7 linked regions of the Homo sapiens genome follow. The protein of the gene in region 5 purifies or fractionates together with the protein of the main gene of each other region. This does not show direct contact. Each region holds a gene or a part of one and is shown on either strand. Other genes may lie near its edges. The genes, in order: SPTBN1, ATXN2L, DBF4B, U2SURP, SPDL1, KCNAB3 and SULT1C2.

What was found.
Region 1: the proteins of SPDL1 (region 5) and SPTBN1 purify together in Homo sapiens (affinity purification with mass spectrometry, with the first as the bait; one large-scale study listed by BioGRID). This does not show direct contact.
Region 2: the proteins of SPDL1 (region 5) and ATXN2L purify together in Homo sapiens (affinity purification with mass spectrometry, with the first as the bait; one large-scale study listed by BioGRID). This does not show direct contact.
Region 3: the proteins of SPDL1 (region 5) and DBF4B purify together in Homo sapiens (affinity purification with mass spectrometry, with the first as the bait; one large-scale study listed by BioGRID). This does not show direct contact.
Region 4: the proteins of SPDL1 (region 5) and U2SURP purify together in Homo sapiens (affinity purification with mass spectrometry, with the first as the bait; one large-scale study listed by BioGRID). This does not show direct contact.
Region 6: the proteins of SPDL1 (region 5) and KCNAB3 purify together in Homo sapiens (affinity purification with mass spectrometry, with the first as the bait; one large-scale study listed by BioGRID). This does not show direct contact.
Region 7: the proteins of SPDL1 (region 5) and SULT1C2 purify together in Homo sapiens (affinity purification with mass spectrometry, with the first as the bait; one large-scale study listed by BioGRID). This does not show direct contact.

What each region holds. Positions count from the first base shown.
Region 1 is NC_000002.12:54,641,327-54,644,826, forward strand, and holds part of SPTBN1 (spectrin beta chain, non-erythrocytic 1), read left to right. Parts: intron 1-1,656; coding exon 1,657-1,803; intron 1,804-2,996; coding exon 2,997-3,260; intron 3,261-3,500. UniProt on the Homo sapiens protein: Fodrin, which seems to be involved in secretion, interacts with calmodulin in a calcium-dependent manner and is thus candidate for the calcium-dependent movement of the cytoskeleton at the membrane.
Region 2 is NC_000016.10:28,832,999-28,835,365, forward strand, and holds part of ATXN2L (ataxin-2-like protein), read left to right. Parts: intron 1-60; coding exon 61-356; intron 357-440; coding exon 441-510; intron 511-1,066; coding exon 1,067-1,213; intron 1,214-1,344; coding exon 1,345-1,417; intron 1,418-1,507; coding exon 1,508-1,695; intron 1,696-2,059; coding exon 2,060-2,189; intron 2,190-2,279; coding exon 2,280-2,367. UniProt on the Homo sapiens protein: Involved in the regulation of stress granule and P-body formation.
Region 3 is NC_000017.11:44,749,715-44,752,764, reverse strand, and holds the end of DBF4B (protein DBF4 homolog B), read right to left. Parts: exon of another isoform or gene 2,218-3,050; intron 2,171-2,217; coding exon 1,512-2,170; 3' UTR 826-1,511; coding exon of another isoform or gene 802-825; 3' UTR 501-801; downstream 1-500. UniProt on the Homo sapiens protein: Regulatory subunit for CDC7 which activates its kinase activity thereby playing a central role in DNA replication and cell proliferation. Required for progression of S and M phases.
Region 4 is NC_000003.12:143,053,570-143,057,069, forward strand, and holds part of U2SURP (U2 snRNP-associated SURP motif-containing protein), read left to right. Parts: intron 1-106; coding exon 107-225; intron 226-1,373; coding exon 1,374-1,550; intron 1,551-2,742; coding exon 2,743-2,881; 3' UTR 2,882-3,500.
Region 5 is NC_000005.10:169,600,773-169,603,025, forward strand, and holds part of SPDL1 (protein Spindly), read left to right. Parts: intron 1-507; coding exon 508-853; coding exon of another isoform or gene 854-1,052; exon of another isoform or gene 1,053-2,253. UniProt on the Homo sapiens protein: Required for the localization of dynein and dynactin to the mitotic kintochore.
Region 6 is NC_000017.11:7,921,359-7,924,107, forward strand, and holds the end of KCNAB3 (voltage-gated potassium channel subunit beta-3), read right to left. Parts: intron 2,705-2,749; coding exon 2,610-2,704; intron 2,474-2,609; coding exon 2,353-2,473; intron 2,274-2,352; coding exon of another isoform or gene 2,187-2,273; coding exon 2,098-2,186; intron 1,822-2,097; coding exon 1,744-1,821; coding exon of another isoform or gene 1,487-1,743; 3' UTR 501-1,486; downstream 1-500. UniProt on the Homo sapiens protein: Regulatory subunit of the voltage-gated potassium (Kv) channels composed of pore-forming and potassium-conducting alpha subunits and of regulatory beta subunit. The beta-3/KCNAB3 subunit may mediate closure of potassium channels.
Region 7 is NC_000002.12:108,308,155-108,310,415, forward strand, and holds the end of SULT1C2 (sulfotransferase 1C2), read left to right. Parts: intron 1-197; coding exon 198-310; 3' UTR 311-1,761; downstream 1,762-2,261. UniProt on the Homo sapiens protein: Sulfotransferase that utilizes 3'-phospho-5'-adenylyl sulfate (PAPS) to catalyze the sulfate conjugation of phenolic compounds. Does not transfer sulfate to steroids, dopamine, acetaminophen, or alpha-naphthol.

The sequences.
Region 1 (3,500 bases), on a different chromosome or scaffold from region 5:
GGTAAGTGGTTATGAATAGCGAAAATATGTGAATGTCCTTGGCACTTTGAATCAATAAATGCCTTCTGTTTTGTGTGTATGTACAGAATACTGGGAAAAATTTTGTCATTAAGTTTTACTTTAACTTCTTTTCCCCTAAGATTGAATAGCCATAGTCTTTCAGATTTTAGCTGCCCAGATAACTGGAACATAGATAATTTTTTCCAAGTAGGAAGTGCGTGCCTTTATTGTCTAATAGATCCATGGTCTTTGATGACAAAGGACTTTATGAGATTTGCTAGTTTTTCCCTCAACAAAGAGTGAAATCAAAAATCTCACTACCTTTTGCTTTTAACCCCCTCCCACCCCCGCCCCCTGCCCCATTCCCTGTGTGGTGAATAGCCTGAGAATAGGGACAGTGCCCAAGAGTTCACCCACTTTCAGAGCCAGAGGGCTCCTGTGACCCACGTCGCTCTCCTTGACATCATTTCCAAAAAACAAATCTCGGGGAGCCTTTCCTGGCAGCAGCCCACAGTGGGAGTGGAAGGGCCTTGGAAGTGTTAATTCTGTAAGTACTTCTACTGGTTTTATGTGTCACTTCTAGATCTTTGTTGGTAGAACCATGAAGGATTTAAGGTGCCAATTTGTTGTGACAATAACTGGTGTAAAAGTGGGCTTCTCACGGTCACTCAGGAGAAGGGACATGGTCCCTTCAGTTGGTTACTTCTGATTCCAGGCTGGCTCTGCATTCTTTTGTGTATCTTCAGCCTGGGCAAACAAAAAGCTCTTCCTAGGTTAGCAAAGCAAATGGGGCGGGAATCAGGACTCTGGCATGGCCCTTACAGGCAGGCAGTAATGAGCCAGGGCCGATTCGGGATGGAAGCCAGCAAAAGTGGGTCTGGGCCTGGCGTTTGGCTGACCCCGGTAAGAGAGCTCCTTTCTCAGGTCTGTCAGCGGCCAGCAGCCTTTGTGCGGCTCTCTAGAGTTCAGATCCAAGCAGACATGTTGGGTCTCAAAATCAAGTCCTGTGAAGTGTTCTTGGTGTGAATGAAAGGTTCTTTAGAGAACTAGAGGCTATAGAAAAAGAGGTGAAGGTGACTCAAACTTGAAGGAAACATTGAAAGGGCATGATTGTTGCCTTAGCCCTACAGTGAGCAAGTTATTTATGCCTTTTTGCATTCCCTTCGATGCACCCACAAAAAGGGGGAGGTAATAAATAAGTAGTTTTTTTTTTTTTTTTTTAATAAAAAGAACTAAGAGAGTAAGAAGGATTGCCAAATGGAGTAAAAGTCAATCATGATTAACATGGTATAGCTGACACAGGTATTTGGAAGAGAAAAAGAGTCATGTCTTGGAGTGGTTAGGGTAGAATTTTAAACACGGGCCTTTTGTGGGGAAAGCCAGTTATGAGTGCCAAACAGTTTGAAAACTGGCTTATAGAGCTTTTGTACTTCTGGAATGAATGTTAGATATAGTTTGGAGCAGAGCTCAGGTACAAGCTCCATCTAATGGACACCTGTCATGACGGGTCAGAGTTGTGAAGTTAAATATTTGGTTGTCTGTCACCATGGAAACGTGTGTAGTATGCATAATATGACATAAACACAACCCTTTCCAGGCGGAAAAAAGGCTGATGTCTAGGATCACAATCTCTGAATCCTTCTGATCTTTCTGTAGCTGTCTCTCTGGATCAATGAGAAGATGCTCACAGCCCAGGACATGTCTTACGATGAAGCCAGAAATCTGCACAGTAAATGGTTGAAGCATCAAGCATTTATGGCAGAACTTGCATCCAACAAAGAATGGCTTGACAAAATCGAGAAGGTGAGTTAAAACATTTGATGTGGCCATGGTGAGAAAACAAACAGGGTAGTAATAAACTCCTTTTTATTTAGCACATTTTCCAGCATATCTGATCTTATCTGTACATTTACGTAAGTTACACAGCCAGTAATAGCTCCCTTTGCACGTACGGGTTCCTGACTTCAACCCATCAAAAGGGAAAAAAGCAGAAACCCAACCAGTTAGTAGAAAATGCTTGATTTATCGTAGAACGAATACTAGGCATTTAGTTTCTGTTGTGCCTCTCATCTGCTGTTGCTGATGGACTGTGAGCTCTCATGCAGGGATTCCACTGTCTTGATCATATTATTTGTGTTGTACTGTGACAGATTGCACATAATTTTAAATATATACATATTTTTTAAAATTGCTTTTTCCTATGAGACTACTGTATACCAGGCGCTATAATAATTACTATGATGTGTTATTCTTGCACAGAGAGATTCTGGGCAGCATAACTGAAGATGAATATGGAGTCCCCCCCTTCCCCCCGACTTCTCTCCTTTTAGACTTTTTATAGTGTTTCAGATTCTTCACGGTTAAAATAATGTGTTGGCAGGGCACGGTGGCTCATGCCTGTAATCCCAGCACTTTGGGAGGCCAAGGCAGATGGATCACTGGAGGCCAGGAGTTTCAGACCAGCTTGGCCAACATGGTGAAACCCCATCTCTATGAAGCATACAAAAATAGCCAGGCCTGGTGGTATGTGCCTGTAATCGCAGCTATTGGGGAGGCTGAGGCACGAGCCCAGGAGGCAGAGGTTGCAGTGAGCTGAGATCACGCCACTGTACTTCAGCCTGGGTGATAGAACGAGACTCTGTCTCAATATAATAACAATAATAATAATAATAATAATAATAATAATGTGTTGTATATCATCTTTGGTCATGGAATGGAGGAGATAAAGTCACGTTATTAGCATTCAGTATTCCGTTGCCCCAGTTGAGACTATTTCAGCATGTAACATTTATTGCTTAATTCCCATGAAACCCTTGTAATGTACACAACCTAGGGGTCGTTGTTGATTTTATTGAGCAGTAACTTCATGTGGAAAGACTGTGTGTATTGAGTGAATGGTTAAATCACAGATCAAATGTCCTAGGTTTGTTTTTCACAGTGACATTTTTTCTGTAGCAAACTTGTTTATTTACAACCATGTTGGTTTTGTTTTCCAGGAAGGAATGCAGCTCATTTCAGAAAAGCCTGAGACGGAAGCTGTGGTGAAGGAGAAACTCACTGGTTTACATAAAATGTGGGAAGTCCTTGAATCCACTACCCAGACAAAGGCCCAGCGGCTCTTTGATGCAAACAAGGCCGAACTTTTCACCCAGAGCTGTGCAGATCTAGACAAATGGCTGCACGGCCTGGAGAGTCAGATTCAGTCTGATGACTATGGCAAAGACCTGACCAGTGTCAATATCCTGCTGAAAAAGCAACAGGCAAGTGGACAAGCCATCATGGACTTGGGTGTATTTCTGTTTTACAGCCATAGTCCTTAGAGTCTTTTCTCACCCACTGCATTATCAGGAGTCCACCTTCCATGGGAAGGCATTTTTAACCCAAAATATTACTTGCTCTAACAGCATCGTAGAACATTTCCAGAATAGAAAGACACTTGTCCAAACTAGAAAGACACAGTATTAGGAGTATTGGGTGTTGGCTGTCTGTGTATGGGATTG
Region 2 (2,367 bases), on a different chromosome or scaffold from region 5:
AGAAGAAAGCCAGGACTAGGGTCTGGGTCAGACTGGACTGTGTGTGTTTCTCTCTTCCAGCTTCAGCCCAGTAGCTCCCCTGAGAACAGCCTGGATCCTTTTCCTCCCCGGATCTTAAAGGAGGAGCCCAAAGGAAAGGAGAAAGAGGTTGATGGTCTGTTGACTTCAGAGCCCATGGGGTCTCCCGTCTCCTCCAAGACAGAGTCCGTATCGGATAAGGAGGACAAACCACCCCTGGCACCATCAGGAGGCACTGAGGGGCCAGAGCAGCCCCCACCACCTTGTCCAAGCCAAACTGGCAGCCCCCCGGTGGGCCTCATCAAGGGAGAAGACAAAGATGAGGGCCCTGTTGCTGAGTGAGTGGAGCGGGGTGGGGCTCTGGGAGGATGGCAGGAGGGATGAGAGCAAGCCGTGAAGATTTACTGTACTTTCTCTCACAGACAAGTAAAGAAATCAACGTTGAACCCTAATGCTAAGGAGTTCAATCCTACAAAGCCTCTGCTGTCTGTGGTGAGCTGGGACAGGAGAATGTGGACTTTGGTTTCTGTGGGGAGACTTGGGCAGTGCTTATAGATGAATAGGGGGAGGAACACTTCACTTCCAGGACCACTTGCCTGGCAGGCAGTGTGAGGAGATGTCATAAAAATGTAAGGATGGCACCTTTGGGGCTGGCTTGGGGAAAATGGACTCAGGTCTCTAGGTTTGGGTGATCAGGGGATCAGGGATCCCAGTGAGTCTGATGAGGGGTTAACAGGCTTTTCTTTGGTTCTTGGCATTTGGCTGAGGGAGTATTGGAGTGGGGTAGTCATGAACAGAGGCCAGCTGACTTGGCTTGAGCCCCTGTATTTGGAAGGTTTGTGATCTTGGACGTCACTTACATTCTCTGCCTCACCTGTAACTTTAGAATACTCATCTCCTCATAGGGTTTAATGTGAGGCTTTATCAAGATAAGTGCAGAATATGTTTGGTATGCAGCATTTCACGAATGTTAATTATTACCACTCTAGGCATGGCCAGGAGTAGAGGGGAAAATACAAAATAAAATTGTCCTCCCTTGTTTTTGCAGAATAAATCCACCAGTACCCCAACTTCTCCGGGGCCCCGGACTCATTCAACTCCCTCCATCCCGGTGCTGACAGCAGGCCAGAGTGGGCTATACAGCCCCCAGTACATCTCCTACATACCTCAGATCCACATGGGACCAGCTGTGCAGGTATGCAGAGAGACTGGCCGGGCCCAGGGTTAGCGGGGTGGGATTTGGTTGCGCTGGTTGAGGGACCAGGTCAGGCCTGTCTGGGCATTCGTGAGCGAGTCATTCAGCCTCATCTGTGTCCTCATCCCCAGGCACCTCAGATGTATCCATATCCTGTATCCAATTCAGTGCCTGGGCAGCAGGGCAAGTACCGGGGAGCAAAAGGTGAGCAGGGCTGGGAGGGGCAGGCGGCGAGGCTGCCAAGGGCCTACTGGCAGGTGGAGCTTGAGCTCTCCTCTCCTCCTCCTCTTCCAGGCTCCCTTCCTCCGCAGCGCTCGGACCAACACCAGCCAGCCTCAGCCCCGCCGATGATGCAGGCCGCCGCGGCTGCTGGCCCGCCTCTGGTGGCTGCCACGCCCTATTCTTCCTACATCCCCTACAACCCTCAGCAGTTCCCAGGCCAGCCAGCCATGATGCAGCCCATGGCCCACTACCCCTCACAGGTGACTGCGGCCCAGGAGGGCAGTGAGGATCCAGGGCCCCTGCTAGGGATCCCATCTTCTCCAGAGACTTGGGAGCTGGCTAGGGGTGGCAGGCAGTGTTGTAGGTGGGATCGGCCCTCTGTGGTATTGGCGGTGTCAGACTTGGGCTTGAGCCCTGGCTCTGGTGGTACCTGTAACAAGGCATTGGACATCTGTATCTCTGAAGTGTAGAGAAAATAGTGTCTGCTGGGTGGGATCGTTATGAATGTTGAATCAATAGGGTGATTGTGAGGAGGCCCAAGCGGTGCTGTGCACGCAGTGACTGGCAGGAGGACACCTTCCCAGCTGGCGGCTGTGCCAACCACTCCTCTCTCTGTCCCGCCAGCCGGTGTTTGCCCCCATGCTTCAGAGCAACCCACGCATGCTGACGTCGGGCAGCCATCCCCAGGCCATCGTGTCATCCTCTACCCCTCAGTACCCTTCTGCAGAGCAGCCTACCCCCCAAGCCCTTTATGGTGAGTCCTGCGCCTGGTCCCTCTGCTCTGGGCTGTGTGCCAGCCCCCTCTGGTGTGCTCAGCACTGGTTCTCCCTCTTTCCTGCTGCAGCCACTGTTCACCAGTCCTACCCACACCATGCCACACAGCTCCATGCCCACCAGCCGCAGCCGGCTACCACGCCTACTGGAAGCCAGCC
Region 3 (3,050 bases), on a different chromosome or scaffold from region 5:
TCCTAGCGAGGTAGCAACTATGATTATCTCCATTTTTCGTATTTATTTATTTATTTATTTATTTTCGAGACAGTCTCGCCCTGTTGCCCAGGCTGGAGTGCAGTGGCACAATCTCGGCTCACTGCAACCTCTGCCTCCCAGGTTCAAGTGATTCTCCTGCCTCAGCCTCCCGAGTAGCTGGGATTACAGGCATGCCAGCATGCCCGGCTAACTTTTGTATTTTTAGTAGAGATGGGGTTTCACTATGTTGGCCAGGCTGGTCTCGAACTCCTGACCTCAAATGATCCGCCCGCCTCAGCCTCCCAAAGTGCAGGGATTACAGGCGTGAGCCACCGTGCCCAGCCTAGATTACCTCCATTTTTTAGATCAAGAAAACAGTTTGAGCTGGGCACAGCTGAAACTCCCCTGGGAAGGGGAGCCAAGATCCAGGATGAGAAGGAGTGCTCGGGTATACAGCACTCCTGCTGGTGGCAGGATAGGGAAAGACATAAAAGATTTGCTGGCAGTCACAGTATTTTATTATTGGAAAGGGTCCTGAAATCATCTCATCCAAGCCCCTTACTTAAAGACGAGGAAACTGAGGCCCGAGTAATAAAGGCATTTTTCTGAGGTCACAGTGAGTTGGAGGCAGCTAGCTCCTGCATTCCACCCAGCAGAAGGGAGTTGGGGTGGAGCTACCAATCGGTCACATCTGCCGAGAAGTGAAAGGCTCAGCGAGAAGAGGCAAGAACAAAGGCCTGGGGACCTAGTCTGAGTAAAGTAGTTAGGGCTGGAGGGCTCTTCAGGTGTCTCGGAGCTGACTCAGGGCAGACGGCAAGGCCTGTGCTGAATGAACGAACGAGGGAATGGGCAATGGTGAGGAAGGGCAGGGGGACAGGAGAACCAGGCCACTGAGGGGCTGCTGCGACCAAGGGAGCCAGGCTTCAAGGAGGAAAGAAAGGAGAAAAGGAACCAACTTTGGTCACCAGTAGCCTGTCCATGACCTTGGAATAGATGATCTTAGTGGAATGCTTCAGGCAGAGCTACCCAGGAAGGAAGTGTGGAAGGGAAGGAGGTGAAGAGGAGGCGGTAGGTATAGACCGCAGGAAGGAGCCAGAGAACAGAAGGTGGGAGCCTTCAAGTATTTGAAGTCGATTTACTGAATCAACTCAAGTGTTTTCCAGGAGAGGAGCATGGCATTTTGGGGCAGAGGGGAAAGGTGGCAAGTCTGAGAAGGAAACCAACAAGAGTGGTTGGCGAGGTGGGCTGGAGGGCCAGGGACAGACAGTGTGACTTGTGGAGGGAGGACACCTCTTCAGAAAGAAACGGCAACATGTTGAAAAGGGACTGACTGCAAGATAAGGCAATGCCCACTGGGTCTGGGTAAAAGTCATCTGGTGCGATGTGGAAAGGGGGCTGGAGTGGAAAGGAGTCTGAGCAGTGCTCACGCCAAGGAGCCACTGCGGGACCTCATTCACATCAAGCAGCACCCATCCATCCTGGGTCAAGTCTCAGGTGTTCTGGGTTCACCTCTAACCTGAGTCTACAGCCAGGAAGCCGCAATGGAGAAATGGCTGAGGAGTGTTCCAGCCTTGGGGTTTGGCCTGGCAGAGATGTCCAAGGTCATGATCATTGAGATAGGAGGGGAAGGCAAGGGTACACGGATGTGAGGTTCGGGGAATGGGTCCTGCAGTTGACAATGAGGGCACCCGAACCCGGCACCACAGGCTTTGTGTGAGCAGCAGGTAAAGGTATCCAAGTCTGAGACAGGGGCAAGGGGAAACTTCCTCATGCAGAGGGGTGGTGTCATGGGGAATGAGGCAACCCCATGTCACAAAAGGAAAGGGACGAACCCAGCAGCGTGCAGACATAAGCCACGGTCTGGCTTCAGGGAAGAGGAGTGGGCCCTTAACAGGAATGTCCGCCGGGGCAAAGGAGTTTTCTTGGGAGGGATGGAGGGGCATGTCCTCTGCAGGCGACCACTCCCCAGGCAGCAGAGCCAAGGAAGTGACCAGATGAGACTGGGTAAAGGAGGCTGGGCAGGGACAGAGGCAGCCCTGCTCCCTGGAGCCCTTGGGCAAGGCCGGCAGGAGGGTTGTGGCACTCACACATGTGTGACTTGCAGGAGGTCCCATCACACCATCTAGTGATTCTGTCCATCGCTGCTGGCCCGCAGCCCTGCCTTGGGTCACTGGAGGGCAGATCAAGGACCGACATATGGCATTCCAGCCCCATCTCTTTGCTATTTGTAATTAACAAATTTATTTACATTTCCTGAACCAAAATTAATTGTAAAATTTAACAGGAAGGGGGTAACATGACCTCTAAGGTGGGCTGTACACATAGTTGCTCTATTTCCAAACTAATAACTTGAGTCCTCACCCATAGCTGGGCCCCCCCTTCTTCCTTTGAAAGGAGACACAGAATAGCATCAGGCTTCCGGAAGCTTCAACATTTAAAGAGACAACTCTTTAAATGCACGGACGCAGAGAAGGGTGAGAAGAATCACGGTACAAATTGTAATGAAAGAAAAAGTGGCCAGAGAATCGATAGCAAACCCATTTCTGTCTCCAGATTAATGGCTTGGCTGCCAGAAATGGGGGGAGGTCCTTGGGGAAGGAGAGGAGGGAGCGAGGGAGGAGGGTGATGTGGAAGTTGGCAGGTGACACACTGGCCCCGGAACAGCCGAACTTCGGGCAGGCAGCTCAAGCTGAGGAGGCAGAGAAGGGGCGAGAGGGGTCCCAGAGGGGGCTCTGGCCACATCCTGGGCTCAGGGGAAAGGTCAGTGCTGGGCCCCAACTAAGTGCCTGGGGGAGGGAGCTCTGTGAGTGGTGCAGCCCAAGCCCCTCCTCTGCTTCATATGTTCCTGAGGATCTGTGTGCGGGAGCGTGGGGGGCTGGGGGAGGGGACAAACACAGTCATTTTGGAAAGCAGGAGCGGCCACATGCTCGTGAGAAAGGAGGCCGGGGTTGGGGGTGGAGCACACCAACAGCTAACCCGCGGCTCTGCAGAGAGGCAAGGGCCTGTGGAGGGCCAGGAAGCCGGGCCAGGACTCCTGCTGCCCCAGCTCC
Region 4 (3,500 bases), on a different chromosome or scaffold from region 5:
GTAATTTAAAAAATTATTTCCTGTAAGAGAAGATATTGTTCTATAAATGAGATTAACCCACATTGATATTTTTAAACAACTTAATATTTTCTATAAAAAATAACAGGAGAAAGAGAAAGAGTTAGAAAGAGAACGAGAAAGAGACAAGAAAGATAAAGAAAAATTGGAATCTCGCTCCAAAGACAAGAAGGAAAAAGATGAGTGTACTCCGACAAGGAAGGAAAGGTATAACATTTCTCATATTTAATTGCATATACTGGTTTCAAGATTTGCAGTGGTGTTTTATAATACTTTCATCATTGATGCCCGCAAACTGGAAGTGTTTGTTCATGATAAACTTGTTTGGGTCCTGCTTGCAGAAGGCAGAAATAGCGGAGAAATGGGGCATTTAGTTGGCACTTGACTTAGTTAACCAGGGCATCATCCCTTCACATGGTTTATATGGTATCCTTAGCCTTAGTTCAGTGCAAGGATTCAATTACAGTATTAGATATCAAACCTGAGGTTTAAGTAACAAAACAACTTGCTAGATTTTCCTTGTTGCATCCAATTTAAGCATATTTTCCAGTATCTGTGCTGAGGCTGCTACTTGTAAACTTGAGTCTTAGTCTTATCTTGAAAGGAGGTTGTATACATAGGCCAAAGCTCACCTTAAGTCTTCATTCTAATCAAAAGCATTTCTCTTTCAGTTTTTATGTCTTACTCTCACGGTTCCTAAATCTCTGATTGAGTAAAGAAAATTGTTTCCCTTAACTGAACTGAGGTTTTCCTAATAAAAAGACCAAGCCATTGCAAATAAAAGTCTAGCTTAGTCACGCTACAGATAGTTACAAATAACAAGTTATGCCAATTGGTTAAAAGTCTGTCACTTTTTTGACTTTTATTACTATTTTGACATAGTTTTAGATTTATAGGAAAGTTGCAAGAATAGTATAATTGATAGTTACCCTTCACCCACATTACCCAAATGTTAAAGTATTTCTACTTTTGCTTTATTCTTCCTCTTCTGTCCCACCTCCAACCATTTAAGAATAATTTGCCAACATGATGCCCCATTCTCTTAACCACATTCAACATTTTAAAAAACTGATATTTAATCCAGAGACCTTAATTAGATTTTGCCAGTTGTTTCAATAACCTCTTATTGCAAAGAGAAAATCCAATTTAGTTGAATTCAGTTGTTGTCTCTTGACAACCTATCTTTAACACTTATTTGTTCTTGTTACAAAGGACTTTGAGTATTGTTAAAAGTAACATTACATGGTTAGAATAAAAGAGTAAGCTGGTAGCAATTAATAGCTAATTTAGTAAAGGAAAATGAATACCCGATCCTTTGCTCATTTATGGAATGTTTTGGGGGCTTTGTTCCATAGGAAGAGGCGACACAGTACATCCCCCAGCCCATCTCGCAGTAGCAGTGGTAGACGAGTGAAATCCCCATCACCAAAATCGGAGCGATCAGAGCGTTCAGAAAGATCTCATAAAGAGAGCTCACGGTCCAGGTCATCTCACAAAGATTCTCCTAGAGATGTTAGCAAAAAAGCCAAAAGGTAAATGCAAGTCATTTTTGCTAATATTTCAGATACCAGTTTCCTTGTCATTTCATCAGCTTTTGAAAATAATTTGGTTGGCATACATTTTTTTTTTTTTTTAAGGATTTTAGAAAACCAAAGAGATACACTTTCATTTTTGGTTATTCCTCCCCACCTCCTCATCCCAATCTCTTTCATGACTGAAGTGAAGGCTTCCAACAAGTGAGGACCAGCCAAGAATTTTAAACATCATATCCAATGTTTTCTGTGGAATAGGGTTAGCTGCTTTACTTTTCGTTCTGTTCTTTAGTTTCTATAGAATATTATTTGATTTTTGTCAAAGCTGAAAGAAACACACATTTTTCCCCCATAGCAATATTATTAGCAAGTTCTTGGGTAGATATTTTTGGAAATACATATCATGAATACCATTTTTTCAGTATGTATTTTAGTATTTTGTATACTTTTTTTTCCTTTAGTTCCAGAAAAATGGTTCAGAAATGTTTTATTTATCTGGTGATACATAGAGGAATTTTCCTGAGAGCTAAAACTGCTTTGTATGCTAATACTTTATTATTGTAACTATTTTTAGTAAAATCTTTACAGAATAGATACCTTTCTCCTTTTCTAAATGGCACCTGTATATATATGTATGTATGTGTTATATATGTATGTATATGTACATGTATCTTTATTGGTTTAAGTAATCCTTCATGAACAGCACTTACAAAATTATGTCTTAAATGATGCCCTTGAATGATACTGCAGTAGTTGTTTGCTTCAGGATGATAAACTTCAAAGCTGCTGTGTTTTTTAAATTTTGTGCATGATCTTAGGTGCAACTTTGAACTTTATCTTGTAGATTAAAGGTTCAAATTTGGGGGTTATCAGTCACTTATGGAGCTTGTTAAAAATGCAAATTCTTAGTTCCATCCTCCAGAGATTTTGATTCAGTAGAGCAGTGATAAGGCACAGAAATCTGTCTTTATAAACAAGCGCTCTACTGATGATCATTGATGCAGTGCATAGTAAGTACAAAATAATCTGTGTGTGTGTGTGTACAATAGAGTTTAAATTTTAGAAGTTCATAGTCTTATTGCAGTGATTTTTCACTGTGCCCTGTTAAAGATCATTTTCGATCGTTTAAGGATAAACAGTTTTGATCACATGAGTACTTTATCAATTGGGATTTTTTTGTTTGTTTCCTTAGATCACCATCTGGTTCAAGGACACCTAAAAGGTCTAGGCGATCACGGTCTAGATCTCCTAAAAAATCAGGAAAGAAGTCCAGATCCCAGTCCAGATCTCCACACAGGTCTCATAAAAAGTCAAAGAAAAACAAACACTGACGTAAATTTTTAAGATGCTGTCACTTATTGGAAATGCGATTTGTTTTGTGCCTGAACGGTCTGTTTTTTAAAAAAACAAAAAATCAAATGAAAGAGCATTCCTGGGGTTTTTTGTTTGTTTGTGTATGCATGTGTAAACTCATGAGCAACTGCATCTGTAGATCTGTCATTGTTTTATATTGTGTAAATTACTTTCATTGTGGCTATTTCTCAAGATGAAATTTTTATTGTTCTAATGGATTTCATCAGAAATGTGTATAATGGATCTGCTGACAGTAGTAGTATTTTGTTTTAGGATGTTGTGACTTAGCAAAAATAATACAGATGTCTTCCCCCCTTTTGTAGCTTTGACAATTTGAATTAGATTTCAAATAAAATCTGAACAGAAAACTATAATGTTGTTTTTTTGCCCCACCGGTGATATTAAGTCCCTTAAAGTCCTACTGAGTTTCACACTACTGTTGTGCTTCTTATACCTGATGCACTTTATAAGCCCCAGTGTTCAAGTAGCTTAAGTTTTATATTTACTAAGATGACTATCCAAATTAAGGGACCTGAGACTCCTATTTGGTGGTTTGCTAACCATTTGCTTTTGATAAGTTTCTCTTGGGTAATACTA
Region 5 (2,253 bases):
ATTACCAATATTCAGAAAGTTTGGCCTATTCTTGTCATTTAATCCTTCTAATACACAATACCAAGTGAAGTGGGTGCTTTTAATCCCCATTTTACAGATAAAATGAAGCTCAGAGAGGTTAAATAATTCCCCAAAGACATGGCTGTCACATACGAGGATTAGGATTCGAACCTGGACTCTGCCGCTGTCTCTTCATCTCCACACTGAGATCTTATGAACCACCTTTTTCAAAACACCAAGAGAGAACAGTGAAGCATTCATGCCTAAAGTCAAAATATTGAATTCCCAAGGAAAAATATATAGCCAAATAAACTTTAAAATATATAGTTTATATAGATTCCATGATAAAGAATAAAAGGTAGAAACAAAGGATGCATTTCAGTGAGGAGATGGTTGCATTTTAAAAGAATGGAAAAAGGTATACATATAACTAGTTCTGGCTTCTTGTGTTGATTGTGTCTTTGTTTTCTTAGATTTTTTCTTTTCCCCACTCGTTTTTATTCTCAGAGACAGTTGAAGTGCCTGTACTGAAAAAGAGGCGTGAGGTGCTCCCTGTGGATATAACCACCGCTAAAGATGCATGTGTCAACAACAGTGCTCTCGGGGGAGAAGTTTATCGATTACCGCCTCAGAAAGAGGAGACACAGTCCTGCCCTAACAGTTTAGAAGATAACAACTTGCAATTAGAAAAATCAGTTTCTATATACACACCAGTAGTCAGTCTCTCTCCTCACAAAAATCTGCCCGTGGATATGCAGCTGAAGAAGGAAAAGAAATGTGTGAAACTCATAGGAGTTCCCGCTGACGCTGAGGCCTTAAGTGAAAGAAGTGGAAACACCCCTAACTCTCCCAGGTCAGTGTCCTCTTTTCCTCCAGGCAGCCAGCAGACCTCTCCATCTCTCCTCTCTCGCTGCATGAACTGTGCTGTCTGTTTCTTTATCTACTTTCTTACAATTGCATGCAGTATAATTCCTCAGTTTCATCTACCTACCTTCAACTTTTCCAGAACTTTAAGAAAGACTAAACTGATTGCAAAGGGAAAGGACTCTTGAATAAGGCAATCACATTAAAAAGTTACACGTTTCTGTTTCATGAAAGGGAATATCACAGTTTAACACATCTCTGAATGTTTTATCAGTTTGAATACATGTACTGTTATTTTTCTCCTGGTTCAAGCATGGCCATGAAAGAAAAATTAACTTACTTTCTCAAAGGGCTTTCCAGTAGTCTAAGAAATTTCAGCCTTCTAGGAAACTTAGGTGAATTTTTTATGTCTTTTGAATTGCTTATCCTAGGCATTCAAAAATGGGCTTCAATACTTATTTTGACATTTTTACATATCAAAGCTAACTCATTTTCATTGTTTCCAAAACTTGAAAGCCTCTAGTTTCTGCATAATTGAGTTTGTGACTAAAAGAAATAGCGTCAGATATGTGTGTCTGAAGGAATTAATGTCCCAAGGGCTTTGTCTTAATAAAAATAATTGAGGTCAGAAGGTAAGAGAAAGTGAATGGAAGGGAAAGGTAAGTAGCAGTGGCTGAGGCTCGAGTTCTGGATGTGCGCAGCAGGAGAAGTGAATGAGGAAATTGAAGAAAGTAAAAGAAAGATGAAGGATGTCTGCATGCAATGGGATTGTTAGAGGCATTTAAAACAAATATCTAGACATTCAAAAAGATGTGCCAATAACTAGCCTAGATTATCTCCTATGAAATGAGATGTTGAAGGTGCTACTAGGGCTACCTTAGTCTTAGAGAGTGGAGACAGATTAATAAGACATTTTACTAATGTGCATTTGAGTAGAGAGAGTAAGACAGCCCTGTTTAAAAGGGCTTATATGTTTTATCTGATTTCTCTCCAAGTCTTCAGTGCTACTAAATGTAATATTCAACAGTAAAAGCACTTTAACAATGTTAGCTGCTATTATTATAAGGCATAGTAATTTTATTACTCCCTCCTTGGATTTTTATAGAATGTTATAACCTCTGAGTCACATAAAATAAAAGCTTACCATTCTTAAGGAAAAAGTAACTTCAAATGAGTATCTGCCACATACCCATGGTTTCAAAGAGTTCTGAAATGAATCCAGCAGATTATGCCTGTTTATATGTGATGCATTGTATAAACATCCTTGACCAGTGTATATTTCTGGAGGTGGATTTCCAGAATTGATAAGTGCCAGCCTTGCTATCTGTATTGTCTTCATTCCTTTTTCTGCCTTTTTTTGCTTGATAAAAAATCACTTAAGCAAATGTA
Region 6 (2,749 bases), on a different chromosome or scaffold from region 5:
TGTTACAGAATAACTAATCATAGTTTAGTAATATATTTTACTTCTTTGTTTCCTCCACAGTCTTGCAAAATGAGTGGGAGATGATGGGGTGGATTTAAGTATTAATTAGTTGATGCAGTTGGCTGCTAATCCAGTAAATGGCATGCTGCTGACTTTTCTCTTTTGGAAATTGGTTTTACTTTGCTTGCCCAGCTTTTGGATCAAGGCGGGATGAGGACGGGTAGAAGGGAGATGGGCAGGTTGTATTTAAGGAAGGCAGAGCTCATCCTCCTCTACCTTGTGATCTTTAAGGTTGTAACTTTCCACCCAATTCTGTTCCAGTGAAATGATAACATCTTTCCTTCTCTCTGTATTCCCTCAACCTCAGACCATTCTTCACTTTACCTCTCCACCAAATCACAAAGCCTCAACCTCAGAACAGCATCTCCCCCTCAGCCACAGGTTCCTTGGCATATGTGTGGGTGTCCAGCGAGAGAGAAATGAGAAGTACAAGGAACAAGTATGGCTAATATTACTTTAAATACAAACAAATAAAGGCAGATAGCTAAGTCTTTCATAGAAAGAGGAGGAACAAAATTATGAAGCCAGATTTCTGGGTTCTAAGGAATGTGGTAGCTGAAGGAAGAAAACTGGGGCCTGGGGTATCTGGTGTCTTGGTCCTTGATGAGAACAGTGACTAGGAGCCCGATGCCTGGGTCACCAAGGTGAATGAGCAATGGAGAGAAAGCTAATGCTAGCAGATTTCTAATGTTAGGGGGCGAGAGGGCCAGACAAGTGAGACTGTGACCCTAACCTCCCAAGCCCCTGCAACTTTAGACACTGTGAGGATCAAGCTGAGGTTTATTTACAGTTACCTGGGAAGTCTTACAGAGAAGGGGCCATCATTATTGCTTTAGGTTTATTGCCAGGAGGAAGACTGCAGTTCCCCACTGCCAGGTAGGAGGCCCTGCTCAAGGCTCAAAAGTCTATACCCAGACGTTTTATTTATTTATTTTTTTTAAATCAAGGCGTCCCTGCCCGTGACGGAAAGGCTGTCACTAATTCCTGCCAAGAACAGCCCAACTGTTTTCCAAGGACCACCCCGGCCACTTTCACCAGACTGCAGCGTAGATGTGCTATTACATTTCCCTCTACCTTTGTCAGTGCTGTGCCACTGTAGACCCCACCCTGACCGCCCTCCTCCACCTCTGGGCTGGGAGGCAGGGTCCTGGTTTCCCAAAGATTATCATTTACTTCCTGCCAGGACCAGCCTGGCTTCCTTCGTACCGAATACGCTAAGAGCCCCATTTCCTATGTTCCAGATGACATCACAACTCACTCACTAGGTTATTACCCTTTGATGACATTTCAAGGGCCCCTTTTGAGGTACACTGTATGTTTCTTGTATGTGCTGGGTTTTTGTTTTTGTTTTCTTTTCTGGGCCTCGGGAATAAGGGGAGGAGAGTAGGGAGCGAGACGAAGTGGCAGAGAGCCGACGGCGAGTAGCTCATGCCCGGGATTTGCAAGAAGGGCCTAGAAAGACGCAGCAGGGGGCGGGCGTGCTACTTTCTCTCTCGACCCCACTGCAAAAGGATATGGCTTTGTTCATGCGTATCACTACTCGAAGCCGGGACTCGTTGGTGGGCGGGGCTAGTCTGGCTCCGGCCGCTGCGTGGAGGGATCCGGAGCGGGAGAGGCGGCTGCGAGGAGCGGGGCTCGGGCGGGTGCAGCGACACCGGGTTGGGTCCCTGCGCCCGCGACAGACTACTTCTTGGAATGCGGCTTGTTTCCCAGGAGCCCGTCTATTTCCATCACTGTCTGCGGGGTCAGCTGGCTCAGCACCTGGAGGAGAGTGGGACGGTGGCGACGGCAGCCCATGCTGGGTCACTGAGAAAGGGCATGGGGTTCCAGTAGCCGGGGAAGCACCACAGTGGGGTCAAGTGGCAAGGCAAGAGCCGCAGCTGTGCCGGTGCCTCGCTTTCCGGCCCTGGGACCTCTCACCTGCAAAGTGAGGACTTTGTAGTGGGTGACCTGATAGAGCCATCCTGGGTTGGATAGCGTGGCTTTGACTCCTGGGGAGGGGGACAGATAGGCTCTGCCTCTGAGTCCCCGGCTCACCTGTAGCGCGCCCAGGTGTTCTATCAACTGCTCCGCACTCGACACCCCCAGCAAGACAGAGCTGACACCCTCACTGCGGAGACACCACGCTGGGGCCAGAGGAGGAAAAAAAGAGGACTGATGGGGAACAGTGACCACATAGATTTCAGAAGTGTCTCTGAAGACAAGCGTCCTCCCTAGGGACAAACCAGTTTTAGGATGGGCTTGGGAGCATGTCAGGAGGAGACAGGGCCCCTGCAGGGTGCAATGTCTCACCAATAGCAAGCTGGGCCACGGTGCAGCCCAGCTGGTGAGCGACAGGAAGAAGGTCCATGACTTTGGCTTGTTGCTTCTTGCCATCTTCACTCTGCACTTTGTCCTTGAGCCACTGGTAGCCCTGGAGGCCAAGAAGAATCAACAGAAGACCCCGCCATCACCACCACCACCACCACACTCACAAAGCAGCCCCCCGTAACTCCCCCCAAAGCAGCCCATATAGCCCAGTCCTGCCATCGAGAGCCCCCAGATCTCACCTTGATGGAGGCCCTGCAAGTATCTGGGACTCGCCCATCATACTTGCTAGTAATGAGACCACAGGCTAGAGGGTACCAAGTGACTGATCCAACTCCTAAGGGAAGAACACTGGGTGTCAGGAAAAGGACCTAGCCATGGA
Region 7 (2,261 bases), on a different chromosome or scaffold from region 5:
TCCATCCCCCTGCACAGAGTCCCCTAGGCCTGCTTCTTATAGGAGAGCTGCTCATGGACAGGTGTCCACTGAAGGGGGAGTTGGGTGAGTCAGGTATGTGGACAGGCCAGATTCAGTATGGGCACTACACCACTTTACTCAGGGACACCACATCTTTCAATCAGAGTGACACTCCTGTCTGGCCTTCCTTTTTCTAGGAACTGTGGGGGATTGGAAAAACCACTTCACTGTTGCCCAGAATGAGAGGTTTGATGAAATCTATAGAAGAAAGATGGAAGGAACCTCCATAAACTTCTGCATGGAACTCTGAGCAAGATGTAAATAAAATTAAAAGGTGGATGGCAAGAGTGCAAATACTATCTTCAATCCTTCAGTCCCAGCCAGAAGAATCTCTGAAAGCATATTGTGAATGTATACAATGTAGTACAAACAATCTCTGTGATGATTAACAGTATGTCACCACTTCATTTTTTAAAAAGGATCACGTCTAATGCCCATTTTCCCAACTATTCTTTCCAAAGTAAGATATAAGGTAGCTTAATAAACTAAGTAAAACGTATGACTTGAGTACAAAAGGATTGTTTTAATCCCCATTATTCTGGAAAGTGCATCCTAGTCTCCCAGTCTATAACATCATAATACCTTGAGTATAAGTCCAAATATTAGGTTATATCTATATTAAAAACAAAATTTCTGTCATCTGTCCTGGCCATTCAGGCAACTCCAGCCTGGGCTCAATCCTGGAGTTCTGTCTGGTCACTATCAGAAGGAACACTTTGAGGGAAACCCTGGTGCAGCCAGCCCTGAGGAAACATGGCCTGAGTGCCCTCACTGGTGGGTGGGAATAAAATGGAAGTGCACAGAGGAGATGTCAGAAGACCAAAACTTGGTGAATAGTCCCAGTGCTAGGTCATATAGGAAACAGAAAGCATGACAGTGGCCTTTTGGGAACCCAAGTTACGTCCTGGTGAAAGCAGAAAGGAGGAGACAGGATGGCTGTCAACAACGTCAGCATGGGCATGGCTCCCAGGCATGGAGGTAATTGGGTCTTGGCTTCAATGCCACCCTTTTGGGAAGCCCTAAACCAAGTGAGGTGTTCTTTTCCCTTGCTTCCCATATTTGTCCCAGTTGCAGCCCTGTTGTTATGTATTTACTCTTCAATTTCTTATTTATACCTCTCACTCAATTGTTAATTCTTTGGGTTCAGTCTCATGCCATATTTACTCCTAGTACCTAATGCAGTGCCTGGCACACAGCAAGTGCCCTTGAGAACTTGTAGAGGGAGTAAAAAAGTGCATGGATAAATGACTGCAGCAAATCACAAATTTTGAACTTTGACCCTTTTCTTTTAGTCCCAAATAGTGGCATTCCATAGCTGAGGGTAGTAGGAGCAGTTCACCCTGGGAGCAGACAATAAGAGGAAGAATGAAGCCAACTAAAATTCTGAATGCTTTTTGTTGGATTTCGTAGGGTATTTTTTTTAAAATAGGGTCTTGCTATGTTGCCCAGGCTGGTCTTAACTGACTGCTTTTTATTATTACCATGCACTGGCAATTCCAAACAATGTCAGTGTTAAAATGCTTCTCCCTGAAAAAGAGAAAAAAAAAAGGAAAAAAAGAAAAGAAAAGTGAAAAGAAAAACTCTTATTGGCCTAAGTTCTAAATAATAGCTAGGTTACCACTGAGTTTTAACTATATGTATATGAGCTTCAAATAAGCACCTTTTTATTATGTAAATAAATAAAAGTTATCTGTATCCCCACTGCATTGTAAAATTTTTGTTGTTTTGTTTCATGTCTTATTCACCTTTGTATGGAAATTAATTCAGAAACCCCAAGCATAGAGTCTACCTCTTTAATTCCAGCAGGCAGATGTAGTTCTGCCTGCTTCCTTCCAAGGTTAAGTTCATAACAGTTCAGAATCTTGCAAGCTCACTTCAGGTATAACCTGTGTCTCCAACCCTGCAGTATTTGGATATTGCTGTTTAAACAGTAGATTTGGCATAGATGATGGTGGCACAATGGTTGTAAAGGAAAAGAAGCAGAACACCTCAGTTTGTTCAATTCTCTCATTGGGGTTTTCAGTTGTATCCAGAATTTAAAACAGTAAAATTTAAGAGTGTGAACAGCAACATTCACACTTTGTTTAGTAAGTACAAAGTTGTGCTCATACAGGAAGTTTACTGACTTTGAATAATAACTTTAAAAACAAAATTTACTCTTTTCTAAGTGTTAATTATTTGTTTTAAAATTTAAGAATGAA